Homo sapiens: one gene and its partner. The protein of the gene in region 1 purifies or fractionates together with the protein of each later gene. This does not show direct contact. Each region holds a gene or a part of one and is shown on either strand. Other genes may lie near its edges. The genes, in order: IDI1 and VWA8.

What was found.
Region 2: the proteins of IDI1 (region 1) and VWA8 purify together in Homo sapiens (affinity purification with mass spectrometry; 3 studies listed by BioGRID and IntAct, with this or other methods). This does not show direct contact.

Annotation. Positions count from the first base shown.
Region 1 is NC_000010.11:1,038,014-1,053,424, reverse strand, and holds IDI1 (isopentenyl-diphosphate Delta-isomerase 1), read left to right. Parts: upstream 1-4,305; 5' UTR 4,306-4,421; coding exon 4,422-4,561; exon of another isoform or gene 4,562-5,106; coding exon of another isoform or gene 5,107-5,161; intron 5,162-9,223; exon of another isoform or gene 9,224-9,253; coding exon 9,254-9,426; exon of another isoform or gene 9,427-9,915; coding exon of another isoform or gene 9,916-9,937; intron 9,938-10,031; coding exon 10,032-10,124; intron 10,125-10,662; coding exon 10,663-10,793; intron 10,794-11,920; coding exon 11,921-12,238; 3' UTR 12,239-14,006; downstream 14,007-15,411. UniProt on the Homo sapiens protein: Catalyzes the 1,3-allylic rearrangement of the homoallylic substrate isopentenyl (IPP) to its highly electrophilic allylic isomer, dimethylallyl diphosphate (DMAPP).
Region 2 is NC_000013.11:41,942,937-41,958,252, reverse strand, and holds part of VWA8 (von Willebrand factor A domain-containing protein 8 isoform a precursor), read left to right. Parts: intron 1-8,239; coding exon 8,240-8,317; intron 8,318-15,316. UniProt on the Homo sapiens protein: Exhibits ATPase activity in vitro.

The DNA of each region.
Region 1 (15,411 bases):
TCTTCAGTTTTCTGAAGGCTGAGAGAGGTAAGGAAGCTACAGAAGAAAAATCTGAAGCTATCAGAGGTTGGTTCATGAGGTTGAAGGAAAGAAGCTGTCTCTATAATACAAAAGTGCAAGATAGGCCAGGCATGGTGGCTTATGCCTGTAATTCCAGCACTTTGGGAGGCCAATGCAAGTGGATCCCTTGAGGTGAGGAGTTCAAGACCAGCCTGGCCAACATGGTGAAACCCTGCCTCCACTAAAAATACAAAAATTAACTGGGTGTGGTGGCACACGCCTGTAGTCCCAGCTACTCAGGAGGCTAAGGCAGGAGGATCACTTGAACCCAGGAGTTGGAGGTTGCTGTAAGCCAAGATCACACCACCACACTCCTGGGTAACAGAGTGAGACTCCATCTCAAAAAAAAAAATGTGCAAGTGCAAGATAAAGCAGCAAGTCATCTAGGAGATCTACCTAAGATCACTGATGAAGACGGCTTTGCTAAACAATAGGTTTTCATTGGAGTTGAAACAACCTTATTTTGGGAAAAGATGCCGCCCAGGACTGTCATAACTAGAGAGGAGAAGTCAAAGCCTGGCTTCAGAGCTCCAAAGGACAGGCTGACCCTTGCTAGGGGGCTAGTGCAGCTGATGACTTTATGTTGAAGCCAGTGCTCATTTATCATTCTGAAAATCCTAGAGTCCTTAAGCGTTATGCTAATTCTAGTCTGCCTCTGCTGTGTAGATAGAACAACAAAGCCTAGATGACAGCACATCTACTTACACAGTGTGGTTTACTAAATATTGTCAGCCCACTGTTGTTGAGACCTACTGCTCAGGAAAAAAAAAAGATTTCGTTTCAAAATATTACTGCTGATTTACAGTGCTCCTGTTCACCCAAGAGCTCTGATGGAGATATACAAGGAGATTCATGTTGATTTCATGCCTGCTAACACAACATCCCTTTTGCAGCCCATAGCTCAAGAAGTCATTTTGACTTTCAAGTCTCATTATTTAAGAAATACATTTTGTAAGGCTATGGCTGCCCGAAGATGTAACTGAATCACTGCACTAGCATAATAAAACATGAATGGATAAGCAGTTGCTTCTTGTGGATGAACAAAGAAAGTGGTCTCTTGAGATGGAACCTAATCCTGGTGAAGATGTGAACACTGTTGAAATGATAACAAAGGATTCAGAATACTCCATAGACTTAGTTTATGAAGTAGCAGCAGGGTTTGAGAGGATTGACTCTAACTTTGGAAGTTTTCCTGGCCGGGTGCGGTGGCTCATGCCTATAATCCCAGCATTTTGAGAGGCCAAGGTGGGCAGATCACAAGGTCAGGAGTTCAAGACCAGCCTGGCCAACATGGTGAAACCCAAGCTCTACTAATAATACAAAAATTAGCCGGGCATGGTGGCACACGCCCATAGTGCCAGCTACTCATGAGGCTGAGGTAGGAGAATTGCTTGAACCCAGGAGGTGGAGGTTACAGTGAGCCAAGATCGCACCACTGCACTTCAGCCTGGGCGAAAGAACGAGACTCTGTCTCAAAAAAAAGTTTTCCTGTGGTTTAAAAAAAATCTTTCATGAAAAGAATTGTCAATCAACGTGACAAATTTCATTATTGTCTTATTTTAAGAAACTGCAACAGCCACCCCAACTTTCAAGCACCACCTTGATCAACAGCCATCAACATTGAGGCAAAACCCTCCACCAGCAAAAAGATTATGACTCATTGAAGGCTCAGCTGATGGTTAGCAGTAAAAAATATTAACTTTAATCATCTCGACCATTCAGTACTCATCTAATATTCTCTATAACAAAATGGGAAATGCACATAAAGCACTTCTGCTACATGCTGAATTATGATTGTTGTCTCCAGGAAAAGAACTTGTGGGAACGTTTGAGTTGTAAGCTGAACTAACTAGCTGCTTTTTTCATGAAATACCGCTTTTACTGGAAAGAACTGACAGATAAACTGAGGTATTCAAACCTAGATATTTGGCAGACATTTTCGTGAAAATAAATATGTTCGTGCCACTTCAAGGAACATAATTCTCAGTACTTGTTGCCAATAATGTTGGAATTTTCATGCAAAAATTCAAATAAAAAACAAACTTAAAACCATCAAGAACTTGGTGACTTTATGTGGAAGCCAGTGCTACAATACTTTAGCTTCCCAATACTTAAAAACTTTTCTGATGAGATTACTAGTGATATTAACAATGTGATTGATATTGAATAATGAAATGTTTTAGCATTTGGAAGATCTGTTTAATTCAGTAAATCAGTATTTTCCAAATGACCAATGCATGACATTTCAACATCACGCACAGGAAAATAGGCATTCGAGGTACAGTCAAAAATAATGAGTTTTAATGTAACAAGTACAAAATGTCCATTGAAGTGGTTTCAAATTCCAAATAGTAATTGGAAAATCCACCACTCGTGTTTTGGGGTAGTAGTATCGAAAAAGAATAACCAAGATAATTTGAAAAGGCTATTAAAAAATACTTCTCAATTTTCAAACTGCATACAGCAGGTGCTCATTCATTTCTTTGTAACATTGATGAGAAAAAGACTCCCAGCCAGGGGCACTGTCTTTGTGGTGTTTACGTGTTCTCGCCACACCTGCATAGGTTTTCTCTGGGTGCTGCAGTTCTTGCCACATCCCAGAGGTGTGCACGTGAGGTGAACTGGTGTGTCTTCACTGTCCCAGTCTGAGTGTGGGTGTGTGAGTGGCCCTGTGATGGAATGGCGTCCTGTCCAGGGCTGGTTCCCTCTTTGTGCCCTGAGCTACTGAAACAGGCTTCAGCTACACATGACCCAGAACTGGAATAATTAAGTAATAATTATCTTTTTATTCATCTTTCTTAAATGTATGTATAGCTCACATTTATTTCAATGTTTAATATTAGAATACTTTGGCCTTTAGAAGCTTAGTGATTTTTTTTTTCCTTGGCCAGAAGTATGCTTTAGGAACTTAATCCTTATTTTTTAGCCTCTGGTAAAATTGGTTTTGCTATACGTTGTTTCACTTAAAAGTCCTGATTCCCAAGAACGCACTGACAGCAGTGAGGACTTGCTGCGCATGCGGGAGGCCAGATTTTCTTATCTGTGTGAAGCCAGACATGAAAGAGATCTGTCAACACATAAAACAAAATCAAAGTCTGTTTTTTGTCTGGAAAAGATTTTTAATAAAAATATAACTTATGTTAGTGTCGTGTGTTTTTTAAGTGAATATTTTAATATGTTTAATTTCTATGTTAGTAAATAGCAGTAGTAAACAACAGTGAGCAAAAGCTTTTAGGTGTCCTCAGTACATTTTAAGAGAGTGCAAGCGTCCTGTGACCAAGAAGTTTGAGAACTGGTGCCCACCAGGTTCATCTCACAAGTTCAGTATTTTAAATTCCACACAAAAGGTAGAGGAAATAGCTGAATTCGCTTCAGCTGCGCATACATTTCACGATTATTTAAAAGTTTAGAGGGCTAGGCGCGGTGGCTCACACCCGGAATCTCAGCACTTCGGTAAGCTGAGCCAGGTGGATCACTTGAGGTCAGGAGTTCCAGACCAGCCTGACCAACATGCGGAAACCCGTCTCTACTAAAAATACGAAATAAGCCGGGCGTGGTGGCGCATGCCTGTAATTCCAGCTACTTGGGAGGCTGAGACGGGACAATTGCCTGAACCCGGGCGGCGGAGGTTGCTGTGAGCGGAGACTGCACCATTGCACTCAAGCCTGGGCAACAAGAATGAAACTGTCTCAAAAAAAAAAAATTTAGAACGTAGTCATGTACCTCGAAAGCGAACACTCCCAACATAGCGTGGAACACCCCACACCCCCGGCGACTTTGCTCCGCCTTGGTCCCGGTCGCAGACACCGCAGAAAGGCCATCGTTCTAGACATACGAGAACTCCCCGTGCAGCCAAACGCTGTAGTCCCAGCGGCGGAACTCGGGGGGGGGGAGGGGGGGGAGTGCCCAACCAGCCAGTCAGCAGTGACGTCCCGCCTTTCCTCCGTTTCCATTGGTCCAGCCATGCGGAGGTCGCTCCCATGGGACGCCGAGCTTCCGGCTGCAGGGCTTGGCGCCCGGGCGCTTTCGGATTGGGAGGGCTTCCTCCATGGAACGCGAGCCTCGAGACGTCTGACGTTAGGCACCGTTCGCAGCGCCTCGGGCTCGCACGGCAGGATCGAAAGCGTGATTGGCTGGCGGCGTCTGTGGTCTCGGGCACCGCCCAGTCGCGGGACGCTGCCTCTGCGGAACTGGGGGTGGGGCGTGTTGACCCCCTTAAAGGCGCCAGAGCCCGCGGTCACGGCTCAGGTTCCCGGTGCTTCGCGCGTCTGCCGTTGTCACAGGCCAGGGAGGTGGCACCACCAGGCGAAGCTTGGCGAGATTGTGTCGTCAAGCGCGTACGGGCGCCAATTGGCCGGGCGATGTGGCGTGGACTGGCGCTGGCGCGAGCGATTGGCTGCGCGGCCCGGGGGCGGGGCCAGTGGGCGGTGCGCGCCGCAGACTGTGCTCAAAGCGGGCGCCATCCGGGACCGGCGGTTGTCTGTGGCCGGAGGCTGATCAGGTACTGTGGACGGGCGGCGGAGTTCGGGAGACAGGGGCAGGGCGGCATCGGGGAGCTGCGGGACGGGGCGGGGAGGAGGCCCGAGGTCTGAGCCACCCGTGAGGTCTCGGCGCGGAGGCCTGGACAGCTGGGGGTGGCGGCGTTGGTCTCCCGAACTGGAGGGAGGCCGGGCCTTCCCGGGCTGTGGTGGGCGCCCGCGCCCCGTGGAAGGCGGAGGCGTGAGTCGGGGCGTCAGAGACGTTGCCATTCTTTGTCAGCGGAAAAGATCGTCGTCTGCGCACAGTCACCTGAGGTTTAGGAACTCGTGGAACTGGAAACCGAGTCGCAGGAGACTAAGAGTTGCGAGTCTCCCCTTAGAGAATTCAGAAACAAGCGTAGACAGCATCGTCAGAAACACGAGCGTGACGACACCGGCCTCCCCGTGCCGAGTCCACGCGTGTGACGCGGGTGCATACACCTGCGTCCGTGCAAGAGGGTGACAGCAACACACTCAAGGCGCTTCTCCTGGGAATGGAGCAGGAGAAGAGATGGGGAGCATCGCATAGATGGAACTAGACCTTTTTCTTGGGTTGGATGATGTGTTCCCGCGTCTACTACATGGTATTCTTTAAACGCATAAATAGACGTATTCATTTTATCTTGTGATTATGCAGCTTAGCTTTAAAATCTGAATTCTGAAAATCCTGAAAGAGCAATTGTCATTACAGCTGGGCGGTGGTGCACGCCTTTAATCCCAGCACTTTGGGAGGCGGAGTCGAAGGCTGCAGTGAGCCGAGATCGCGCCACTGCACTCCAGCTTGGGCGACAGACATAGCAAGACCCAGCCCCATCCCCCCGGAAAAAAAGTCATGTCAAAAAGTCTAGTAATTATGTAGTAACGAAACCTATCTTAGTGATCACCTAATATACAGTTGGCCTACTGTATCCTTGGGGTCCATATCCATGGATTTAACCAACTGCACATTATAAAATATTTGGAAAAAAATTTCATCTGTACTGAACATATACAGACTTATTCTGTAAACAATACAGCACAACTATTTATGTAGGATTTACATGTTTTAGATACTATAAGAGATCATCTACAGATGATAATTTAACGTTCGGCCCGCATCACTTAACAGGGATACTTTGGAGAAGTTCATTGTTAGGTACTTTCATCATTGTGGAAGCAGAGTGCGCTGACGCAGACCTAGACAGTGGAGCAGCTGGGCTGTGTGGTGTAGACAGACGGTGGAGCAGCTGGGCTGTGTGGTGTAGACAGTGGAGCAGCTGGGCTGTGTGGTGTAGACAAAGGACCAGACAGTGGAGCAGCTGGGCTGTGTGGTGTAGACAGTGGAGCAGCTGGGCTGTGTGGTGTAGACAGTAGACAGTGGAGCAGCTGGGCTGTGTGGTGTAGACAGTGGAGCAGCTGGGCTGTGTGGTGTAGACAGTGGAGCAGCTGGGCTGTGTGGTGTAGACAGTGGAGCAGCTGGGCTGTGTGGTGTAGACAGTGGAGCAGCTGGGCTGTGTGGTGTAGACAGTGGAGCAGCTGGGCTGTGTGGTGTAGACAGTGGAGCAGCTGGGCTGTGTGGTGTAGACAGTGGAGCAGCTGGGCTGTGTGGTGTAGACAGTGGAGCAGCTGGGCTGTGTGGTGTAGACAGTGGAGCAGCTGGGCTGTGTGGTGTAGACAGTGGAGCAGCTGGGCTGTGTGGTGTAGACAGTGGAGCAGCTGGGCTGTGTGGTGTAGACAGTGGAGCAGCTGGGCTGTGTGGTGTAGACAGTGGAGCAGCTGGGCTGTGTGGTGTAGACAGTGGAGCAGCTGGGCTGTGTGGTGTAGACAGTGGAGCAGCTGGGCTGTGTGGTGTAGACAGTGGAGCAGCTGGGCTGTGTGGTGTAGACAGTGGAGCAGCTGGGCTGTGTGGTGTAGACAGTGGAGCAGCTGGGCTGTGTGGTGTAGACAGTGGAGCAGCTGGGCTGTGTGGTGTAGACAGTGGAGCAGCTGGGCTGTGTGGTGTAGACAGACAGTGGAGCAGCTGGGCTGTGTGGTGTAGACAGTGGAGCAGCTGGGCTGTGTGGTGTAGACAGTGGAGCAGCTGGGCTGTGTGGTGTAGACAGTGGAGCAGCTGGGCTGTGTGGTGTAGACAGTGGAGCAGCTGGGCTGTGTGGTGTAGACAGTGGAGCAGCTGGGCTGTGTGGTGTAGACAGTGGAGCAGCTGGGCTGTGTGGTGTAGACAGTGGAGCAGCTGGGCTGTGTGGTGTAGACAGTGGAGCAGCTGGGCTGTGTGGTGTAGACAGTGGAGCAGCTGGGCTGTGTGGTGTAGACAGTGGAGCAGCTGGGCGGTGTGGTGTAGACAGTGGAGCAGCTGGGCTGTGTGGTGTAGACAGACAGTGGAGCAGCTGGGCTGTGTGGTGTAGCCAGTTGCTCTTAGGCTGTTTTTCCTGTTGCTTCAGGCCTAAATTTGGACAGTGTGTGACTGTGCTGAATAATGTGGGCAGTTGTAACACAACAGCAAGTATTTGTGTATCTAAACATAGAAAAGGTGATGTGTTGTGCTCCGATGTTACAATGGCTACAACATCATTAGCAATAGGAATATGTCAGTTCTGTTATAATTTTATGGAACCACTGTAGTATATGCAGTCTGTAGTGTACCGAAACACCATCATGTGACACATGTATGTACACAGTGGATATACACAGGTGATCTGCAAATATTATGCCATTTTATATCTGAAACTTCAGCATCCTCAAATTTTGGTAGCTGTGGGAGGTCCTGGAACTAACTCCCATATATACCAAAGGATGACTGTATATAAAACTAGCCTATAGAAGTTGGAAATCTTTCTAAAATTGAGGCTAACTCTGAAGTTGACTTCCTTTTCACATTATTTTCCCTCTTGATTTGTTTTAATCATTAACCTTATTTCAGATTTTTTGTATTAGATATCAATATCTCCATCATCACTGACTCCTGACACACGCATTCACACACACACACACACACACACACACACCCAGACCCTATGTGGGTCTAGAACTTTGTATTAAGTAGCTGTTTAAACACTTTGTGTACATTCTGCAGTATGCTTGAACTCTGTTGAAAGTATTTCAGTGGTCCCCGTGTGGTGGCTCACTCCTGTAATCTCAACACTTTGGGAGGCCAAAGCAGGCAGATCTCCTGAGGTTAGGAGTTCGAGATCAGCATGGCCAGCATGGCAAGACTTCGTCTCTACTAAAAATACAAAAATTAGCCTGGCGTGGTGGTGCACGCCTGTAGTCCCAGCTACTTGGGAGGTCAAAGCAGGAGAATCACTTGAACCCAGGAGGTGGGGGTTGTAGTGAGCTGAGATTGCACCATTGCATTCCAGCCTGGGCAACAAAACGAGACTCCCTCTCAGAAACAAAAAAGTATTTCAGTAAAATCTATGTATTTGAAATAGAGTCACATAGAAAGTAGAGCACATGGGATCTTCAAAATATATTGGGTAGAAAAATCAGAAAACAAAAATTATTATTCATTCAGAAATAAAGGAGAAGAAAAAAGGGAATAAAAAACTTCAAGGTCAGACTATGTAAAGGTGCCCTGAAGGATACAAAGATTAGAAAGCTTAGACGCTGCTGGATACAGATATGTAAAAGTGTGAGTCAGAATACTGAAAGTACCCTAATAAGTGCTTTACGTTGTAATCACATGGGAGGGATAAATGGGGGTTCAGAAAATTAATGTTTGATGCACTAAGGTAGGAATGGGCCAACTATGGCCTATAGGCCAAATCTGGCCTGCTGCCTGTTGTTACGTCCTGTGAGCTGAGTGTTTTTCTCATATTTAAACGGATGGAGAAGAATCAAAATATTTTGTGACACATGAAAATTAAATGTAATTCAGTGTCCATAAATATTGGCATGCACCCACACTCAGTTTACATACTGCCCAGTTCACCTATTGCCTGTGACTATTTTAGTGTTACAGAGGCAGAGTTCATACTCTCTGGCCCTTCACAGAAAAAACTTGCCAAGCACTGCCTTAAAGCATCTATTGAATATAACGAATTAAGTCTTCTCCTGTTTATCTAGAATGATATCAGCTAAGTACTGTCCTGGGGGAAATTGACAAAACTCATACAAATAATTTTTCTGATAACCCAGGAGCTTGGGTTGAGAAAAACTGGATTAAGTCTTACTGTGACATTGGTAGAAAGGTTATTGAATGTCTGGCACGAGTTGTGCCTTGAAAAAATGGATTTCAACCAAGATTGGCCTGTGGCAATCTTGAGCAACTATGCAGAGACAGGCAGTGGGAAAAACAATTCAGGATGGCAATGGGAGCACATTCTAGAGATTACAGAAGCTGGTGTAGAAAAGCAGGATGAAAAGTTAGGTTGGGGCCAAAAACCAGAGAAGAAAAGTACACTGGAAAAAGGATTGAGTATCAAGTGCTGCAGAGGATCTCAGAGGTCAAGAATTTAGAGCGGAACGTTGAGCTTGGCCTTCAGGAGCATGACTGTGATAAAAGGCCAGCTGTGAAACCTGTAGGAGAAATGATGACCCAGATAGTGCTGAGCAGCCGGCTGGCAGCGTTCTTGGGGTCCCTGTGGGGATGCAGAGTGGTACAACTGCAGATGGGGAAGCAGCATCATTATTAACCTGTGTTTATATGACATTCAGAAAAATATATGATGGCCTTTCTTTCTCTTTTCCTTTAATATTAGTGTTCTAGAACAGATCAGACATTTTGTAATGATGCCTGAAATAAACACTAACCACCTCGACAAGCAACAGGTTCAACTCCTGGCAGAGATGTGTATCCTTATTGATGAAAATGACAATAAAATTGGAGCTGAGACCAAGAAGAATTGTCACCTGAACGAGAACATTGAGAAAGGTGCTGCTTTGAAACAGTCTTTCTTGTAAAGCGATTTGTGTAGGCATTTCCGATTTGCTGAGAAGAGCACTCTGTTCAAGGAAGTGCAGTCTTCAGTAATACCGTATTTTCTCGTTGGTTCCAGTTCGTTAAATAGTGTGGTCATTAGCATCTGCTTTGCTGTCTTCCTGTTACAGCGATTTCTCTTCACTTCATGCCTGTTACTCGGCTTCTTCAGAGTTATTCTGGATTCATAGAAGAGGGACTAGCCCTGACATACAGCAGCAGCCTAGCCTCTAATATTTCTAGAGAGTGGAGAGAGGCGGGCACCATGCAGGGAAGCATGTGCCTTCACCACTTTCCGAGAACTGAATGTCCTTGATAGGGAACTTGACTGCCGGAAAGGGGCCACCAGCATCACCATTTCCTTCACTCGACGGCCAACTTCCTTGCCCAGTGCAGAGCTCTTCCTCACCATAGCCATGCAGAGACTATGCATGTGGATAAACCATGGGAAAAAGCAAAAGCAGCAGCAAGTTACTAATGTTATTCTGAACTGCAGGGAGAGAATTTGGCAAATAACTGGTACTTAAGGCTAAAATAATTGTTATTTCTTTTGCTTTCAGGATTATTGCATCGAGCTTTTAGTGTCTTCTTATTCAACACCGAAAATAAGCTTCTGCTACAGCAAAGATCAGATGCTAAGATTACCTTTCCAGGTTAGTACACTTTTAATGTACAATATTGTGTTTGTACATTAATTTGACTTTTTATCATTCTGAATTCTTGGAGCCAAGGTCACAAAGGGAAATCCTGTGAATGGCATAATTTTATATTCTGCATAAAGTGAGTTTACACAATGAGTGCAACCTAATACAACAGCAAGAAAAAATAAGAACTAGTAAGCAATTGGGCAATATGTATAATTTACATATTTATCTTTAATCTGTATTATCTACACTTTGATCTTTTTTGGTTAAAGAAGTATTAATAAGGAACCTACCTACAAATGTAGTCTGTTTCACAACATAATTACTGATAGCCCATTATAACCAATTTTAAAATCCTTAAAATAATTACTGATAGCCCATTATAACCAATTTTAAAATCCTTAAAATAATTACTGATAGCCCATTATAACTGATTTTAAAATCCTTAAAAATCATTTCATTTTTCAGTTACTTATAAAACTTTTTCTTGATCTTTCAGACCTACTTTGAAGAAAAGTTGATCTGTCTCTGTATTACCATTTTCCAGGTTGTTTTACGAATACGTGTTGTAGTCATCCATTAAGCAATCCAGCCGAGCTTGAGGAAAGTGACGCCCTTGGAGTGAGGCGAGCAGCACAGAGACGGCTGAAAGCTGAGCTAGGAATTCCCTTGGAAGAGGTAACCAGCTCTCCTACACAACCATACAAGCTGAAACCTAAACATACTATAAAAAGGTTTTTAATAAAATTTTTAAATTCAAATGTAGTTCTCTGCTTGGTAACCTCCGGAGTTATGAGTTAGCCCCACAAACCATCTTGAATAAAGATTATTTAAATTTTAATTTCTTAATATCACTTGTCAAAACTTAGCTCAATACGGGGATGGATTGATCTGTTAAGCACTATATAAGGTTGAATATTTCTATAATTGATCAAATCTAAGATGAGTATTTTCAAGTGTTACAGCTCTTGTAGAATTTAACTGACAGGTTTTCCAGTTCTCACCTAAAACTCCCCACCTACAAAAAAGGTGAAGATTTTCTGATGGAAACTCTTAGGAATATGAACCATAAATCTCATTGGTTTAATTGAAATCATTTTTTTTCTTGGAATTGTCCCCCTTAAATAAGACCTGGATAAATAAAGTATTTCTTATCTATATTTTCCAAAAAGCAATTTTAAAATATGAAAAAGAAAAATGTCGGGCCGGTCGTGGTGGCTCACGCCTGTAATCCCAGCACTTTGGGAGGCTGAGGCAGGTGGATCACGAGGTCAGGAGTTCGAGACCAGCCTGACCAACATGGTGAAACTCCGTCTCTACTAAAAATACAAAAACTAGCTGGGCATGGTGGGGCGGCACGTCTGTAATCCCAGCTACTCAGGAGGCTGAGGCAGGAGAATCGCTTGAACCTGGGAGGCGGAGGTTGCAGTGAGCTGAGATCACACCATTGCACTCCAGCTTGGGTGACAGCAAGACTCCGTCTCACAAAAAAAAAAAAAAGAAGAAAAAGAAGAATGTCACATTTCTAGTTTGAGTGACTGCCCCTTTTTTTAACATTAAAAAAAAAAAAACTTATCTGATCGGGAAAAAAACGCAAACACTTGAAACTAATGATGTAATCATTTTTCCATATATAATATTAAGATTTCCATATACCATTGATAGGAGATTAATGCTTTAACCAAGTTCTAATCCTAAAACTATACTGCTGTTCGAGATATCGCTGTAATACAGTGAGCTAATTTTAGATTTTTTTTGTTACGGTGGCCGATGTTTTAATTACTTTTTTTTTTTTAATGTCTTAGGTTCCTCCAGAAGAAATTAATTATTTAACACGAATTCACTACAAAGCTCAGTCTGATGGTATCTGGGGTGAACATGAAATTGATTACATTTTGTTGGTGAGGAAGAATGTAACTTTGAATCCAGATCCCAATGAGATTAAAAGCTATTGTTATGTGTCAAAGGAAGAACTAAAAGAACTTCTGAAAAAAGCAGCCAGTGGTGAAATTAAGATAACGCCATGGTTTAAAATTATTGCAGCGACTTTTCTCTTTAAATGGTGGGATAACTTAAATCATTTGAATCAGTTTGTTGACCATGAGAAAATATACAGAATGTGAATATGTAGGTAAATGATTACAGAAAAATTTATCTGCTTAACAAACTTAGAATGACTTTTTCCTTTTAAATTTAGTTCTATCATTAATTTATCATTAAATTTAGTTCTATCATTTGGTACTATCATTAATGTATTATATACACTGATACTTTAAAACTTGTGTGGAAAAAACTAACTTATAATTTTGTATCACACACCCTGGATATGTGTTCTGTTTCTAAGCGACATTTGTGAGAGATTATTGTAAAATGAGAGCGAGCAAATAAAACTTAATTTAATCTTTGCAGATACATACTTATGGGAAATTTGAACAAATGAGTGAAACTCTGTTTTTAGTAGGCTGTGATAAACATTTCCGGAGCACTTGCAGAGGACTTGCTATTTGCCAGGTGCTTTATGTATCATTAAATTTTTCTCATAGTTCAGAAAAATGTGCAAAGGAAACTATTGTCTCGCTCCTTCAAAACAGTCTTAATTAACTTTCATATTAGCAGATTAAACTAGCAGAGCAGGTTCAAGGGAAATTAAATGATATGGACCCTAATTTGTATCATTCTGAGTTGATTGTGTGGTTTATTCATTCTGGAAACATGTTGATACTTACAGTCAGCCACTGCTTTTGATAAGTGATATTGATTAGGTTGAATCTTCTTGTAAATAGTATTTACCAGTTAGCAAAGTCTGTGTTTTCAGAATTACAGTGAGCACAGAGGTGTTCATAAAATGGGAATTGAGTCCCACTCGGTAAGAGTTGCTTAAACTTGACACTGTTGACATTTGGGCTGGATAAAACCCCTGTGGTGGGGTCTGTGCTGTGCATTGCAGGATGGTGAGCAGCGTCCCTCTCATGTGACACCCACAGTTATGCCGGATGTTGCCAGATGCCCCTAGGGGACAGAGTCAACCCCCAACTGAGGACCACTGTCCTACAGAGTCAGGAAATATTGTAGGGAGAAAAAAATAACAACAACAAAGGCCTGTGTTAATGTTAAATAGATGAGATTATGGAATGTGTATATTAATGTTAAAAATTGTACCTTGATCAATGTACTTTTTATAAACTTGCCATAGATATCTCAGATTTGAAACCTCAAGACAGATTTATTATTCTTAAATGCTGTATGATAATGAAGAAAAATAAAAATTTATTTCTTGCAAAGTTAAATGTTTGTTAAATTCAATAGAATGACTCATTTATGGTTAACTTTGGGCAATTTATAATTTCAGACAAGACTGTTTAGCAAGTATTTTATTGAAAAGTAAAAAAAATTGCAATTTAATACTGTGTTTAGTTTGTTAAAATTTTGATACACTAATAGGATATTGCCTGTATAGTTTCCGTTGCATTTATAATATTGTTTCTAATTTTTTTAGTTTTATTTTCTAGGAAGTTTTAGGCTGAAAGCCACATATAATTAGTTATGTGATAACTATGAGTTGCCATGGCTACTGAATTGGACATGGGACCCTTAGACTGCTACCCAGCACCTTGTTAAGTACTTAGCAAGAGTTAGATACTACTGTTGTAATATTACTAGGATGCCATCCAGAAAATGTAAGGAATGTCTTTTGACCTGATAAACTCCTTAGAACTCCTTCATCTTTTATAAAGAGGAGTATCCCTCTCCTAGATATAGCTGCTTCTGACCCCAAAGGCAGATGTGTTGGTTTTCAACTAGAAAGCTAAATGGTACCTATAAATTTTTTTTTTCTTAAACTGTTTTAAACTCTTAATCTTCAAAATATATACTTCTTTGATTCTGGTCAAACCATTGCCAACTCCTTTAAGGACAAAGTAGAGGTGGCCTTCTAATAATTGCTGATTCTGTTTCCCTACCTATATTATCAAGAGAACAAGACCAAAACAGAAAATGGTATAATAGGAAGGAAGGCACATTTTCTTCTTACTTGGCCCTGGCACCTGGGGACAAGTCCAGGTCGTACCCGCAGTGCATCCCTGTGGGAACTGCCCTCCACCTGCTCCCTGGGGACACGTCCAGGTCGTACCCGCAGTGCGTCCCTGTGGGAACTGCCCTCCACCTGCTCCCTGGGGACAAGTCCAGGTCGTACCCGCAGTGCGTCCCTGTGGGAACTGCCCTCCACCTGCTCCCTGGGGACAAGTCCAGGTCGTACCCGCAGTGCGTCCCTGTGGGAACTGCCCTCCACCTGCTCCCTGGGGACAAGTCCAGGTCGTACCCGCAGTGCGTCCCTGTGGGACCTGCCCTCCACCTGCTCCATGGGGACAAGTCCAGGTCGTACCCGCAGTGCGTCCCTGTGGGAACTGCCCTCCACCTGCTCCCTGGGGACACGTCCAGGTCGTACCCGCAGTGCGTCCCTGTGGGAACTGCCCTCCACCTGCTCCCTGGGGACACGTCCAGGTCGTACCCGCAGTGCGTCCCTGTGGGAACTGCCCTCCACCTGCTCCCTGGGGACACGTCCAGGTCGTACCCGCAGTGCGTCCCTGTGGGAACTGCCCTCCACCTGCTCCCTGGGGACAAGCCCAGGTTGTACCCGAAGTGGGTCCCTGTGGGAACTGCCCTCCACCTGCCCCTTAGGGGGTGCTTGTGCAGTGGTTTCATCCTCTCACTTGGATCTGTCCGTTGGACCCTCACTAGGGTTGGGAGTTCCTCATGGGATGAGGTACTCTAGATCCCCTCTTGACAGATTTTCTTTTTATTATTTCAGATACACCTCTTCTTCACCCTTCCTCTCTGGGTGCTTTTTCAGCCCTAAGTATGTACTTACACATTTTATAACATTTTATAGCATGAACTGAAGTGTGTATTTGTGTGTATTCAGGTATCCTGACAGCTTTCTGCTTTACAATTTTCACACATTATACTTATTTACCATACATGGTTTAGACTCCCAAACGTAAATCTCCAACACCGCATTCTCTCCTCTATTTTATATGCATATAGGTGAATGCATAAGTAAACTGATATATCCAGACAGTAGGATGTTATTTGGCACTAAAAAGAAATGAGCTATCAAGCCACAAAGACAGGGAGGAAAGTTAGGTGCATGTTGCTGAAAGAAGCATGAAAGGCTACATCCTGAAGGAGTCCAGTTCTCCAACATTCCAGTAAAGGAAAACTGGAAACAGTAAAAAGCCAGGGGTGACGGGAGGGAGGAATGAGTGGGCAGGGCACAGGATTTTTAGGGCAGTGAAAC
Region 2 (15,316 bases), on another chromosome or scaffold:
AATTGTCGTTTGCTCTCAAGAGAGGACCTTTGTTAAGCCTGATAAGCAGAAGGAAAATAGGTCATTTATGTTAAAAACAAAACAAGCAGATAAACTCAACCCAAACCCACTGCTTTTTATCCTGTGCTGTCAGATAGTATAAGTATCTATAATTGTAAATTCTTTATATCTCTTTATACTTCCATTAAAATTACTGTCTCTTGGTTTTAAGAGCAAAGAGGTTAACAAGGATATCTACTGCAGAGAGTTTTCAATAAAGATTATTGTAGTGTTTTTACAGATGGAGCCAAGCAAGTTGTTTCAGTGGGACTCTGATGTTAAATGGATTCAAATATACTATAGATCAAATGATAAACCTAGAAACATAACTGTATAAATATATCATGACATTTTGGTGCTTTCCTTTAACGCCATTATTATTAAAGGGATTCACAGTTTTTTCTTTATGACTCTTGTATATGAAGTAAATTTGTTTATAGAAATACCCTAAAATACTTTTACACAGCAATCTATGTTTATTATAGAAGAGTGATAAGTACAGATTCCCTAAAACATGATCCTCCCACCCAAATTTATAATTATCAACTTTTTAGCATTAATCCTATCAGATTACATATATATGTATAATTATTTATTTATTTATTTTTGAGATGGAGTCTTGCTGTGGCACCCAGGCTGGAGTGCAGTGGAGCAGTCTTGGCTTACTGCAACCTCCACCTCCTGGGTTCAAGCGATTCTCCTGCTTCAGCCTCCCAAGTAGCTGGGACTACAGGTGTGCACCACTGTATTAATCTGTTCTCACACTGCTATAAGGACATGCCAGAGACTGGGTAATTTATGAAGAAAAAGAGGTTTCATGGACTCAATAGTTTCGCATGGCTGGGTAGGCCTCACAATCATTGTGGAAGGCGAAGGAGGAGAAAAGTCACGTCTTACATAGCGGCAAGTAAGAGAGCTTGTGTACAGAAACTCCCCTTTATAGAACCATCAGACCTCGTGAGACTTTTTCACTACCACGAGAACAGCACAGGAAAAACCTGCCCCCATGATTCAATTACCTCCCACTGGGTCCCTCCCATGACACATGGGGATTATGGGAGCTAGAATTCAAGACAAGATTTGGGTCGGACACAGGCAAACCATATGAGCCACCCCAGCTAATTTTTGTATTTTTGGTAGAGATGGGGTTTCACCATGTTGGCCAGGCTGGTCTCGAACTCCTGACTTAAAGTGATCTGCCCATCTTTGCCTCCCAAAGTGCTGGGATTACAGATTTGAGCCACTGTGCCTGGATGATATGTATATTTATACAGATACATTTTTTTAAAGAAATGGGATCATGTATGTTTTATAATTATTACATCCATTATTGTGAACATATTAACATGGTAATAAATATCATTGTACATGATTGTTTAAAGTAGTTATTAAGTTTATATGTTTGTCCATATAATTTATTTTACTGTCTCATTCTTGCACATTCATGTTGTCTAAAATATATAAACAATGCAATAAACATCCATCTACATGAATTTTTGTTATTTTAAGATTATATCCTTGGGCTACAATAGGATTAGATAGAAATAACTTTGAGGAGGGGAAATATAGAACTGTGGCTTCAACTGAGAAATACAGTGTAAAGAGGAAAGAACTATACTGTGGTTTTGGTCTAAGTTTTGTATTTATCAGGTATTGAACCTTGGGGAAATTATTAACTACTTTAAACCTGCAGCAGGTTATTTTGACCCTGAGGATATTCTGACCCCATTGTGTATTCAAGAATTTAACAGAAAGGCTCAGAACAATGGTAAGCTTATAAATCATTAGGCAGATCTGCATTAGGGGCACATAGACTAGTGTGGGAATTGCTGATATATTTAGTTTTCTCTTGGGTCTAAGTTTAGTATATATAAAAATGATGACACTAACCCAGTAGTTCTCAACCCAAGGTGATTTCTCCCCCTCAGGGGACATTTAGCAATGTCTGGAGATGTTTCTTTTTGGTTATCAGAACCAGGAGGGAGGGGTGCTACTGGCATCTAGCGGGTAGAGGCCAGTGATGCTGCTAAACAGTCCATGACACACAGGACAGCCCCTCACAACAAAAAATTATCTGGCCCAAAATGTTCATAGGGCCGCTGTTGAAAAACCCTCATGAAACCAACTTCTTTGTCAAAGCTACTGTTAGAAACTTTAGACTCACTAAACTTAACAGAATTTAAGCACAGAACAATTTGTGAATTGGGCAGTCCTCAGAACCAGAATAAGCTCAGAGAGCTCCATTCTGAAACGTGAGCAGGCAGCATTTATGGACAGAAAATGGAAGTCAGGTACGGAAACAGCTTACTTGGCTATAACTCAGTGTTTGCCTTACTTGAACACGGTCTCATCAGTTGGCAGCCTGTGGTTGACCCAAGCTCAGCTGCTCAGATTGGCTAAGACTCATCTATTTGTTACCAAAGTATACTCCTAAGTTCCGGTTTCAGTTAATTTACATACAAAGTTATGTTGCAATTCATTACATAAGGACTCCAAGTACGGAGGCATCCTTAGACCAAATTTGGTTGAATTTAACAATTTGCCCCTTTGGTTAGCTTCTCAATTTTGACAGATTCACTGAAACTTTGGGCATTGTTGCCACTCTCTGTCACCAACTTAATGGACTTACTTGGTCTCATTATGGAATTTAAAAGCCATGATGTCATATCAGTTGAATAATTCTTTATGTTCTTGCTGTTCTGGTCAAAGTGAGACCATTGAATGCTCAATGAATGGCTGCATACAAACATTTAAGACTTGAGAGGATATGGTGCACCAGAAGGGCTATCATGAAGAATCTCAGGATAATAATAAAGACTGTAGTGTACTTCTTAACAGGAGCCCCTGTGAACTGAACCAATCAGAAATCCAGCAAGGTTCAGGCACTTTAGACACTTCAATAGTATTTGAGTCTAGTTCAAGTAAACCCACAGTTTACATGAAGAAAGGCATACATTTGCTTCTTTTGCCTAAATTATGTTACCTGTTGTCTTATAAGTATTCTTATTCCCCTTTAGAGAGTAAACTACCTCACTTAAATCATTATAGATGGCTTGACTTATAAGCACATTAGTAGGTGGGATGTTTTCAAAGGAGAAAACATTACAGCTTAAAAACAATACTTAAGAAAAAATTTAAAATTATAATTATTCATTTGTCAAACATTTATTGAATATCTGGTAGGTTTCAGGTATTGGGGATAAAATGATGATTAAAACTTAGGCCTTGCACCAAGAAAAAAAGAGTCCTGTAGACTAAACAGTAGTCTTCAAAAATTTTTCTTATTTATCTGCTAGGAGGATTTTAAAAATATGTATCCCTTTGAACATTTTTAGGTTAATAGCTAAAGTTTTCCTGGTAAGTTTAAATAGTTGCAAACGATGACATTTCCAGTATGTTGTAAATATTGGCATTTAAAAGAAAAAATATTACAAATTCTGAGTGTATCTTTTAAGTGGAAACAGAATATTCTAGTAATTTAGTACAAATTCTGAGTGTATCTTTTAAGTGGAAATAGAATATCCTATCTCTATTTTGGAAGTAGATAAAAAGCTCTTCTTTAATTGTTAGAAAATGTCTCTTATCTCCTTGAATTTGTATTTCCATTACAGAAGCATAAATCAGATCCTGTGCTAGCAGAAAGACTAATGGAGTGATCAATTTGTGCTAGAGGAAAAGTTAGGGAAGGTTCAATGGGGAGATGAAGATATTTCAGTAGTAGTTGTGTAGAGGGCAAGTGGTGTGAGAGAGATGTGGAAGGTCTTCTAGGCTGAGGAGATAAAGTGTTAGTCACTGAGATAGGAATACAAGAGGTGGAGCTGGTTAGAGGTGGTTAGGCGCACACAATGGACAATATAGAATTCTGTTTCTGTGTGTTTGTTGAGTTGTCTCTGGAATATCTAGGTAAAGTCTCCAGTAGGCTACTGGCAGGTATGAAACTCAGGAGAGAGATCTGAGCCAAAATAGACATTTAAAGAATTAGTTGTATATGGTGTTTGAAGAGTACCCTTAACTGAAAAAAAAAAAAAGGTTGTATAGAGGTCAGAGTTGGGACATTGGTATGGATTAAATGACTGAGGAAAGTGTAGTGTAGTAACAGAAGATGGCCAAGAACATCAATGTTTGAGGCAGAGATGGCAGATGCCTGGTCCATATGAATGTCATAACTTTTCCCTTTTGTCTATTGCAGATGTGGCTCATTGATCACCACCCTGTTTCCCAATGAGTCCAATTTCCGTTGTGATTTATTTTTTGGATTTTTTAAGAAGCCTGTTGCTTGATTTCCAAATGTTTGGGGATTTTCCAGTTACCTTTTTGTTACTGATTTCCAGTTTAATTCCACTGTGGTAAGAAAACATAATCTTTATGACTTCCATCCTTTAATTTTCTTTTTTAATTTTTTTTGACACAGAGTTTCACTCTTGTTGCCCAGGCTGGAGTGCAATGGCGCTATCTCGGCTCACTGCAACCTCCGCCTCCCTGGTTCAAGCAATTCTCCTGCTTCAGTCTCCCAAGTAGCTAGGATTACAGGCATGTGCCAGCCACCACGCTCAGCTAATTTTGTATTTTTAGTAGAGATGGGGTTTCACTATGTTGGTCTGGCTGGTCTCAAACTCCTGGCCTCAGGTGATCCACCCACCTCGGCCTCCCAAAGTGCTGGGATTATAGGCACCAGCCATTGTGCCTGGTCTCATCTTTAAATTCCTTGAGACTTGCTTTATGGTCCAGCCTATAATTTATTTTGGTGAATGTTCCATGTGCATTTAAAAAGGATATGCATTCTGATCATGAGGAACCAATTACAATACTAAAAAGTGCTTTATAAAATACAATATTCAGTTGATAGGTTGAGAAAATAAAAACATACTTGCAGTAATACTTAAATAAATAATAAATAGAATATGCATTCTGTTGTTGGGTGTAGTGTTCCATAAATGTCATTTAGGCCAAGTGATTAATAATGTTTTCCAATCTTCTCTTTCTTTACGTCTATACTTGGTCTTTGCCAGAAGGCTGAGAAAAAATTATCCTTATCCTGTATCCTTCTTTATTTTTTCCTACTTCTTCCATTATTTACCAAGAGAGCTACTTAAAGCTATTAATATCTAGATGTGATTGTGCATTTTTCTATTTCCACTTTTAGTTCTGTCCGTTTTTGCTTCATGTTTATTTCCCAGCTCCCTCCCTGCCAGGTCACCATTATGGGTTTGCTGTGTTACCCAGAAGGAGGCTTCCTAACACAGTGACCCTCTCTGCTTGCTCTCTCCCCTTGCCCCTTCAGGCCTAGGGGCGGTAATGACTTTCTGTTATTGCTAGTCCTAGGATACTGCACCATCTTTTTTGGTTTCCGTAAACTCTGCTATACCTTTGTAAATAGTTCCCTTTTTGTACTCTCCTCAGTTACTCAGTTTGAATGTACTGTCTTTCAGAAATGTGAGGTATGAATTTTACTTTTTTTAAAAAAAAAATGGACAGCCAATTGTCAAGTTACCATGAATTTGTATAGTCTGCCCTTTTTCTAGATTATTTATTAGAAGGATGATGTCGGTCAGCTCTAACACTCAGGGAATGTTTGTAATGAGAACCTGTGCCTGAAAACGTTTTTCTTATGTTCAGATTAATTACTCAGTATCATTTTGTCAGGAGGCCAAATAATTACAGTCTTTTCAGGAAGTGAAATAACATTTGTAAAGACATCCTATTTGAAAATACTGTAACTATAATTCTTGAAACTACTCTGTAATAAAAGCCAGTAGATAATATCACTTATATTTGTAAGCAAGCTTATCTTTTAAAAGAAAAGCTACTGTAGAAAGTAGCTAATTTATAGGTTCTTTCCTGCATTAAGGAAAATAGGGCGAGATGACCAGTCAACCAATACCTGGCAGTAACTAAGATTGTACTATATGAGGCACTGCTGACCACCTGTTTTTTGAGGGTGTTAGAACTTAAACGACCAAATGATCTCAAACATGCATTAGAGATCATCTGGAGGGCTCATTGTAACACCGATTGCTGGACCTTAGGGTTTCTAATTCAGTAGGTCTGAGGTGGGGCCTGAAGATTTATATGACTTACAAGTTCCCAGGTGACGTTGATGCTTTGAGAATCTCTGTGATAGATTGCGTGAAGACAAAGAGTTAATTGGACAGGGGAGGAAAAGGGAGCGGTGCACGGGTTATGGAGGAGCTTTGCAGGCTTTTGAATTTTGGTCCTCATCATCTTTTGCCTTGCTTTTTTCTGGCTGCCAGTTTTGGACCTAGCAGGGATTTAGCTTTGTGTGTAGTCCTTATCTTCCTCTCTCAATTTACCACATACCTGTAATAAATTTCTTTATCTGTTAAAAACTCTGTTATGGATTTACAAATTTTCTCATTTGTAAAATTTCTGTCTCATAGGATTATTTTGAGAATGCAAAAAATACTTAGAAGGTAGTAAGCATTCAACAAATGTTGGCTATTGTTATTAGTACCATGATTTAAGGCCTTAGTGTTCAAGGTATCTTGCTAGCTTTAAACTGGCAGTGCTGAAAGATGAGTTTTGCACGACTACTTTTTTGGAGTGTCTCTGAGCCCTTTCCAAATGAAATTCTAGATGCAAATGGTATCACCATGCCTATTTTGCTGTTAGAGAGAGCACAGCGGGGAGAGATTATTCAGTTTAGTCCTCGGCTTTAGAAGATCACTCGGAAATTAAGGTTACATTAAAAAATAGAACTGTATAGAACTTACTGAAAACTTTTGCCTGCTTTTGCTTATTTCATGTAGGAATTCTTGGCTTTTATTTTTTATTTATTTGAGACGGAGTGTCGCACCGTTGCCCAGGCTGGAGTGCAGTGGCGTAATCTTGGCTTGCTGCAACCTCCGCCTCCTGGCTTTAAGCGATTCTCCTGCCTCAGCCTCCCAAGTAGCTGGGATTACAGGTACGTACCACCACGCCCAGCTAATTTTTGTATTTTTAGTAGAGACGGGGTTTTACCATGTTGGTCAGGCTGGTCTCTAACTCCTGACCTCAAGTGATCCGCCTGCCTTGGCCTCCCAAAGTGCTAGGATTACAGGCGTGAGCCACTGCACCTGGCCAGTTCTTGGCATTTATGCCACTGGGGCTTTATTCCTTTTATGCACCTAGAAATGTTGAAGTTTGAGGATATGTTGCTGGATAATTTGAAACTGTATGCAGTAAAAATACGGGTGTACAAAGATATGTAAAAAGGTTGAGGATCTGTGTTAAAGGTAACACTCTATGGGCTGGGTGTGGAGGCTCACACCTGTAATCCCAGCACTTTGGGAGGCCGAGGTGGGCGGATCACTTGAGGTCAGGAGTTCAAGACCAGCCTGGCCAACATGGTGAAACCTCATCTCTACTAAAAATACAAAAATTAGCCAGATGTGGTGGCACATACCTGTAATCCCAGCTACTCAGGAGGCTGAGGCAGGAGAATCACTTGAACCCAGGAGGCGGAAGTTGCGGTGAGCCAAGATCACATCACTGCACTCCAGCCTGGGTGGCAGAATAAGAGTCCGTCTTAAAAAAAAAAAAAAAAAAAGGCTGAGTGTGGTGACTCATGCCTGTAATCCCAGCACTTTGGGAGGCCAAGGCGGGCAGATCACGAGGTCAGGAGATCGAGATCATCCTGGCTAACATGGTGAAACCCCGTCTCTACTAAAAATACAAAAAGCTAGCTGGGCATGGTGGCAGGCGCCTGTAATCCCAGCTACTCTGGAGGCTGAGGCAGGAGAATGGTGTGAACCCGGGAGGCGGAGCTTGCAGTGAGCTGAGCTTGCACCACTGCACTCCAGCCCAGGTGACAGAGTGAGACTCCATCTCAAAAACAAAAAAAAAAAAAGATTTTACTCTATGGATACTTTGAATGATCTTAAACAAAATGCATTCTTCTGTATTGCTTTTGCCTATATTAATGTTGCTATTCATGAAATAAAGCTTGTTGATGTATTTTATCATGTTTTTGTTTGTTTGTTTGCTAACACATTTAAAATGTGAATTGCACTGATGCCTCACTTCTCCTTTATACATATATACTTTGGATAGAAGTTTTAGAGCATAGTGCTTGACTTATAGACAGCTGCGTAGTACATTTCTGTAACATCCCTCTCTGTAGGTCAGGACAAGCATTGTTGCATAGTCTATGGTTTTCTCGTTTGTCTCTTATAATTATTCTGTTTTTAAAATCTCTTTTTAGGTGATACAGTTAATATTGGAGATGTATCCTACAAGTTGAAAATTCCTAAGAATCCAGAACTTGTGCCACAGAACTACAGTAAGAAATATTTATTAATATATGAATGAATAACTTTTAACTTTTCATTATAGGAATTTTCAAAGTTATTTAAAGCTAGAGAGAATAGTATAAACCTAATGATTTTATCATCCAGCTTCAACATTTATCAATATTATGCCAATCTTCTTTTAACTGATTTTTGTTCTGGAGTATTTAAAACCTATCCCAGACATCCTATTACTTCACCCATCAATATTTCAGTAGAAACATTTATTTTTCTCACATCCTACTGTTTCTTTTTTACCTGGAATAAGATTTACATATAATGCACAGAACTTTTTTTTTTTTTAATTATACTTTAAGCCCTGGGACACATGTGCAGTACACGCAGGTTTGTTACATAGGTATACACGTGCCATGGTGGTTTGCTGCACCCATCAACCGGTCATCTACATTAGATACTTCTCCTAATGCTATTCCTCCCCTAGCCCCCTACCCCCTGACAGGCCCCAGTGTGTGTTGTTCCCCTCCCTGTGTCCATGTGTTCTCATTGTTCAACTCCCACTTATGAGTGAGAACATACAGTGTTTGGTTTTCTGTACCTGTGTTAGTTTTCTGAGAATGATGGTTTCCAGTTTCATCCATGTCCCTGCAAAGGACATGAACTCATCATTTTTTATGGCTACATAGTATTCCATGGTGTATAGGTGCCACATTTTCTTTATCCAGTCTATCATTGATGGGCATTTGGGTTGGTTCCAAGTCTTTGCTATCGTGAACAGATGCACAGATCTTAAGTATTTATTTTGGTTGGTTTTGACAATTTTATAAACCTGTATAACCACCAAGATTACATTAATCATCCCAAATGTTCTCTTGTGTTCCTACCCCTTTACCCTGCCCTGGAAATCACTGTTCTTTTTTTTTTTTTTTTTTTTTTTTTATGATGGTAGATTAGTTTTGCTTGTTCTTTAGCTATATATAAATAGAGTCACATGGTATGGTTGTATGTGTGTATGTATTTTTTTTCTCATGAAGAGCATTAATTTGAGATTCATCTATGTTGCTGTACCTATCAGTTTGTTTTTAATTCCTGAATAATGTTCCATTGTATAAACATACCACAGTTTGTTTATCCATTCTCCTATTGATAGACATTTGGATGGCTTTCATTTGAAGCCTGCTGTGAACATTCCTGTACAATTCTTGTAGTTATCAGTTTTTACTTCTGTTGAGTAAAAATCTAGGAGTTGAGTTGATATGTCATACTATAGATGCCTGTTTAACTTTTTAACTCACTGCCAAACAATTCTCCAAAGCAGTTGTACCATTTTACCTTTGACCGACAGTGATGTTCTACATCCTTGTCAGCATAGTCTTTTTAATCTTAGTCTACCAGGTGTGAAAAAGTAACTCATCATGGTTTTTGGTTTATAACAGTTTTATTGAGATATAATTCATATACCATAAAGTTCACCTTTCCATATTGTACAATTCAGTAATTTTAGTTTATTCAGAGTTGTACAACCATACTGTTATCTAACGTTTTCATCACTCCATGAAGAAACTTTATACTCATTAATAGTTATTTCCCATTTTCTTTCTTCTCTCTCCCCCACCACCCTCCCAGCATTTAGCAACTACTAATATACTTTCTGTTTCTATAGATTTGTCTATTTTGGACATTTTATATACATGGGATATGTAGCCATTGTATCTTGCTTATCTTAGCATAATGTTTTCAAGGTTTATTGATGCTGTAGTTCATTGCTTTTTATGGCTAAATTATATTCCATTGTGTGGATATTCCACATTTTGCTTATCCTTTCATCAGTTGATGGACATTTGGATTGTTTCCACTTTCGGACTATTGTGAATATTGCCACTCCAAGCATCCATATGCAAGTTTTTATATGGACATATTTTCAACTTTCTTGGGTTTTACCTAGAAGATAAATTGCTAGGTCACATGGTAACTCTATGTTTAACATTTCAAGGAATTACCAAAATGTTTTGTTTTGTTTTTTTTTTTTTTTTTTTTTTGAGACAGGGTCTCACTTTGTGGCCCAGGCTGGGGTGCAGTGGTGCAATGTCGGCTCACTGCAACCTCCCCCTCCCAGGTTCAACCTCCAGGTCCTCAGCCTCTCCAGCAGCTGGGACTATAGGTGCAGGTTACCATCCCCAGCAATTTTTGTATTTTTTGGTAGAGATGGGGTTTCACCACATTGATCAGGCTGGTCTCAAACTCCTGTCCTCATGTGATCCGCCCACCTCAGCCTCCCAAAGTGCTGGGTTTACTGGCATGAGCCACTGCGCCCGACCACCAATATGGTTTTCAAATCACCTACACCATGTTACATTCTAACTAGCAATGTGTGAGGATTCTAGTTTTTCCACATCCTCACTAACACTTGTTATTGTTTGTCTTTTTTATTACAGCCATAGTCAGACATGTGAAGTGACATCTCATTGTGGTCCTGATTTGTATTTCCCTAATGACTTGCAATCATTATTTGCCCAAAATCATGTCACTTCTTTTCTCAAAATTCTTTAAATGAGTTTTTAGTATTTTGGGAACAAAGGTCCATCCTTAGCTATTAATTTCTTGATCTAATCTTAGTCTCATCTCATGCCACTCTCCTCTCCTATTCTTTGTTCCAGTCATTGGTCATGATATAGAATAGCTTTTTGTTCACTCTTCAGATTCTTCCACTAGACTATGTGCTCTGTTAAAGAAAAAATAAATCAATGATATGTGTTAAAGCCGGGTAAGGAAGACTTTATTCAGGACTGTCACTATGAGTCTTGCAGTGGGGGAGAAAGACTGGGCTCAACCCCCAATGCAGCATGGGCAAGTGGTAGTTTATAGCCAAGGAACAGTGTGGGAGTTGGTGGATAGAAAATTGTTAAGAGGAAATGTCAGGGTTAAGGGAGATTCTGGCTAAGCCAACCTAACAAAATTCTTGCTGACGACAGGCTGGGGTGATCAGACATCACCTGGGGGATTGTAGAAGATGAGGACTCTGATCAGCTATCAAGGGTGATTAGATTATGAGGATGGGCGGGTTCTGGATAAATTGTTTTAATGGCGTTCTTTTGCTACAACTGGATTTTACAAGGAAGTACACAGGTGTGTCTAGGAAAAGGTTTAGAAACCTGACTAAAGTTTGGGCAAGAAGAGAATCTTTGTCAGCTTCTTGAGGGAGAATATGTCACTTTCATCTAACCCAAGGTTCCATTGACTCTACCCCCTAAATGCCTCTGCAATCTGTCCTTTCCACTCTGGCCCACTTTTTCTTTTACTACTCTTTTTTTTTTTTTAATTATTTTGTTAGTGGTCATCCTAGGGATTCTAATTAACACTTTAACCTAAAACAATCTTGTTTAGATTAATGGTAACTTAGTTTCAATAGTATATAAACTACTCCAATGTAGCTCTGTTCCCTTCCAGCTCCTCAGTGCTATTATTGTCATACAAACTATATCTTTATACATTAAAAGTTTATCAGCACAGTTTTATAATTATTGCTTTATGAAGTTTTTAAAATCAGGTAGAAGAAAAGAGTTACAAACAAAAATAGGCTTACGTTGTCATTATTATTTATCTATGTAGTTCCCTTTACTGATAATCTTTATTTCTTCATGTGGATTTGAGTTACTGTCTAGTGTGCTTTCATTTCAGCTTAAAGGAAGGATGCCCTTTAGTAAGTATCTTCTAGATGGCAGGTTTGCTAGTGGTGAATTATCACTTTTTTTTTTTTAAATTTGGAAATGTCTTCATTTCTCCTTTGTATTTTGAAGGATAATTTTACTGGAAATAGAATTCTTGGTTGACAGGTTTTTTTTTTTCAGCACTTTGAATATGTCTTCTTACTGTTTGTGGACTTCCTAGATTTTGAAAAGAAGTCAGTTATCAATCTTAACAAGGATCCTTTTTATATGATAAGTCAGTTTTTCTCTGCTATCAAGATTCTCTCTTCAGCTTTTTGATAGTTTGACTGTGGATGTGTCTAAGTGCAGATTTCTTTGAATTTACCTTGTTTTGAGTTTGTTGAGCTTCTTGGATGGGATGTGGAAATTAATGTTTTTCATCGAAGTTGGCAAAATTTTGGCTATTATTTTTCATTATTATTTATTTATTCTCTTTTTTCTCTCTCCTTCGAGGACTCCCATTATATTTGATAGATTTGATGGTGCCCCACAAGTCTGTGAGACTCAGTTCATTTTTCTTTATAATTTCTTCTTTCTGTTCCTTAGATTGGATCATCTCAACTGACTAATCTTCAAGTTTGCTGATTCTTTCCTCTGCCTGCTCACATCTGTTGTTGAGCCCCTCTGGTTAATTTAATCAGAGTTTTCAAGTTCAGAATTTTTATTTGGATCTTGTTTTATAATTTCTCTTTATTGGTACTCTGTTTCATGAGACGTTGTTGTCATACTTCTTTAGACATGATTTCTTTTAATTCTTTGAATGTATTTGTGGTAGCTGATTTAAAGTGTTTTTCTACTTAGTCAAATGTCTGGTTTACTCAGAGATAGTTTTTATTGACTCCTTTTTTCTGTATGTATGAGCCATACTCTCCTATTTCTTAATTTCTTATAATTTTGTTGTTACTGAAAGTAGACATTTTAAATAGTATAATCTCTCCTTCCCAGGCTTTGTGGTTGCTCCTTGTGTTGCTGTTTTTTTTTTTAGTGATGTTCCTAGTCTATTTCTTTAAAGTCTGTGTTCTTTGTCATGCCTTGTTAGCTTAGTGGTCAGCTAATGTTTGAACGGAGATTTCTTTAATGCCTTGAATCAATAAGTCTCTTGGCTTTTGCTGAGAGTCTGTGTGTGCAAGTTGGACATGACTTCAGTGCTCCATAGGTAGCTTACAGTTGTGTCTCAACCTTTTCTTTCTGCTTGTGTGGACCCTCAAGATTAGCGGAAGGTGAGAGAGAGATTAGGCCCTTCTCAGGATTTTCCTGAATATATGCATGGCCTTCCAGATTCTTAGGCATACACTGAAGCTTTTCAAAGCCTTCTGCAAACATCTCATTTTCAGTTTTTGTTTCTGTCTTTAAAGTTTTTTGGTTGTCCTCTTGTTAGCTCCAACTGGTTTTGCTGCCTCAGGCAGCTGTGATGTTAAACAATTGTTGATTTTTTTTGACAAATGCCCCGAGTTAGTGCTGTTTGCATACAGTAGCTCTGAGTACATCAAATAAAGACAAATTCTAAAAATGGAGCATTTCAGGGAGCTGCCAGACAGGTCAAGTAGGGATAATTTTTTGGGATTGAGGCTTTTGAGGAGCTTCTGTATAGTTCTGTTCACTTCAGTGACTTCCAGGCTGCTGGTTTTCACCATGATTATGGACAGTTTGTTGTAAAACAATTGGGCTCACGCCTGTAATCCTAGCACTTTGGGAGGCTAAGGTGGGATGATCGCTTGAGGCCAGGAGTTTGAGACCAGCTTGGGCAACATAGTGAGACACTAAAACCCTGTTTCTGTAAAAAATAAAATATTGTTTTTTATTGTGGTTGAGGCTGCAGTGAGCCATGATTGTGCAACTGCATGCCTCCTGCTTGAACAACAGAGTGAGACCCTGTCTCAATAAAAGAAAAAAGAAAAGAAAAACAATCACAGAGCTAGGGACATGGGGATGGGGTTAGGGCGAATTAACCCCTTTTCTTACATAAATGCTCATGAGATTGTTGAAAACTTTTTGATTTCCAGAGTTCTAAAGAAGTTGAGTTTGACAATTTATGCCATTATTATTGTTTTTTTAAGAAGGAATGAATTTTCAGAGGTCCTTACTCTATTCCAGTAATGCCTGTCCTCTCACTGTGGTTTATTTATTTATTATTATTATTATTATTATTATTATTTTTTGAGACAGAGTCTTGCTCTGTCGCCCAGGCTGGAGTGCAGTGGCTCAATCTTGGCTCACTGCAGCCTCTGCCTCCCAGGTTCAAGCGATTCTCCTACCTCAGCCTCCCGAGTAGCTGGGATTACAGGCTCACGCCACATTGCCTAGCTAATTTTTGTATTTTTTTAGTAGAGACAGGGTTTTACCCTGTTGGCCCAGGCTGGTCTTGAACTCCTGACCTCAGGTGATCCACCCACCTTGGCCTCCAAAGTGCTGGTATTACGGGCATGAGCCACTGCACCCAGCCTCACTGTGGTGTAAGTTTGCATTTCTCTGATGAACAGTGATGTTCAAGATATTTTTCTGTGCTTATTGGCCCTTTGTATTTCTACTTTTGTGAAGTATATATTAAAGTCAGTTGCCCACTAAAAAAATTGAGTTGTCTGCCTTTTTATTATTGAGTTGCAAAAGTTTTTTATGTATTATGGATCCAAGTACTTTGTCATGTATAAGTATTATGAATACTTTTTCTCAATCTATTTGCTTAGTCATTTTCTCATTGATATCTTTTGGTTGGCAGAAAGTTTGATTACACATAATTTATTGATTATTTATTTTTTAAAGTTAGTGCTCATTGTGTCAGAAATCTTGGCCTACACCAAGACTGTAAAGACATTCTGTGTTTTTTTCCTAAGAATTTTATAATTCTGCTTTGTTTTAAAAGGATAGGTCTATTACATCTCTGCTTCTAAATTCATCAGCACCATTTTTTCATAATATAGCCTTTATTAGTTAAATATCTGAGAATCTGTAGTGATTAGTGATATCTGTAGAATCTATAGTGATAATTCTCTATTTTGTTCTTGATACTGGAAATTTGTATTTGTGTTTTTTCCTTTTCTTTTTAATTAGTCTTACTATGGGTTTATCAGTGCTAATAACTTTTCAAGGAAACAGCTTTTGACTATTGATTTTTTTCTCTTGCTTGTCCATTTGTTATTTCATTGATTTCCAAGCATTAATTTTTATTTATTTTTATTTTAGTTCCTCTTCTAACACCAGCTTCACAAACTGTGGCAAACCTGGGGCCAAAGAGGTCTGTGAAAATCTCTTTGCTGTATAGCTGCCAGATTTTTGGAATGCTGGGGAATTCTCTTTGCTATTCAGTCTTATATTCTGCTTGCTGCAACT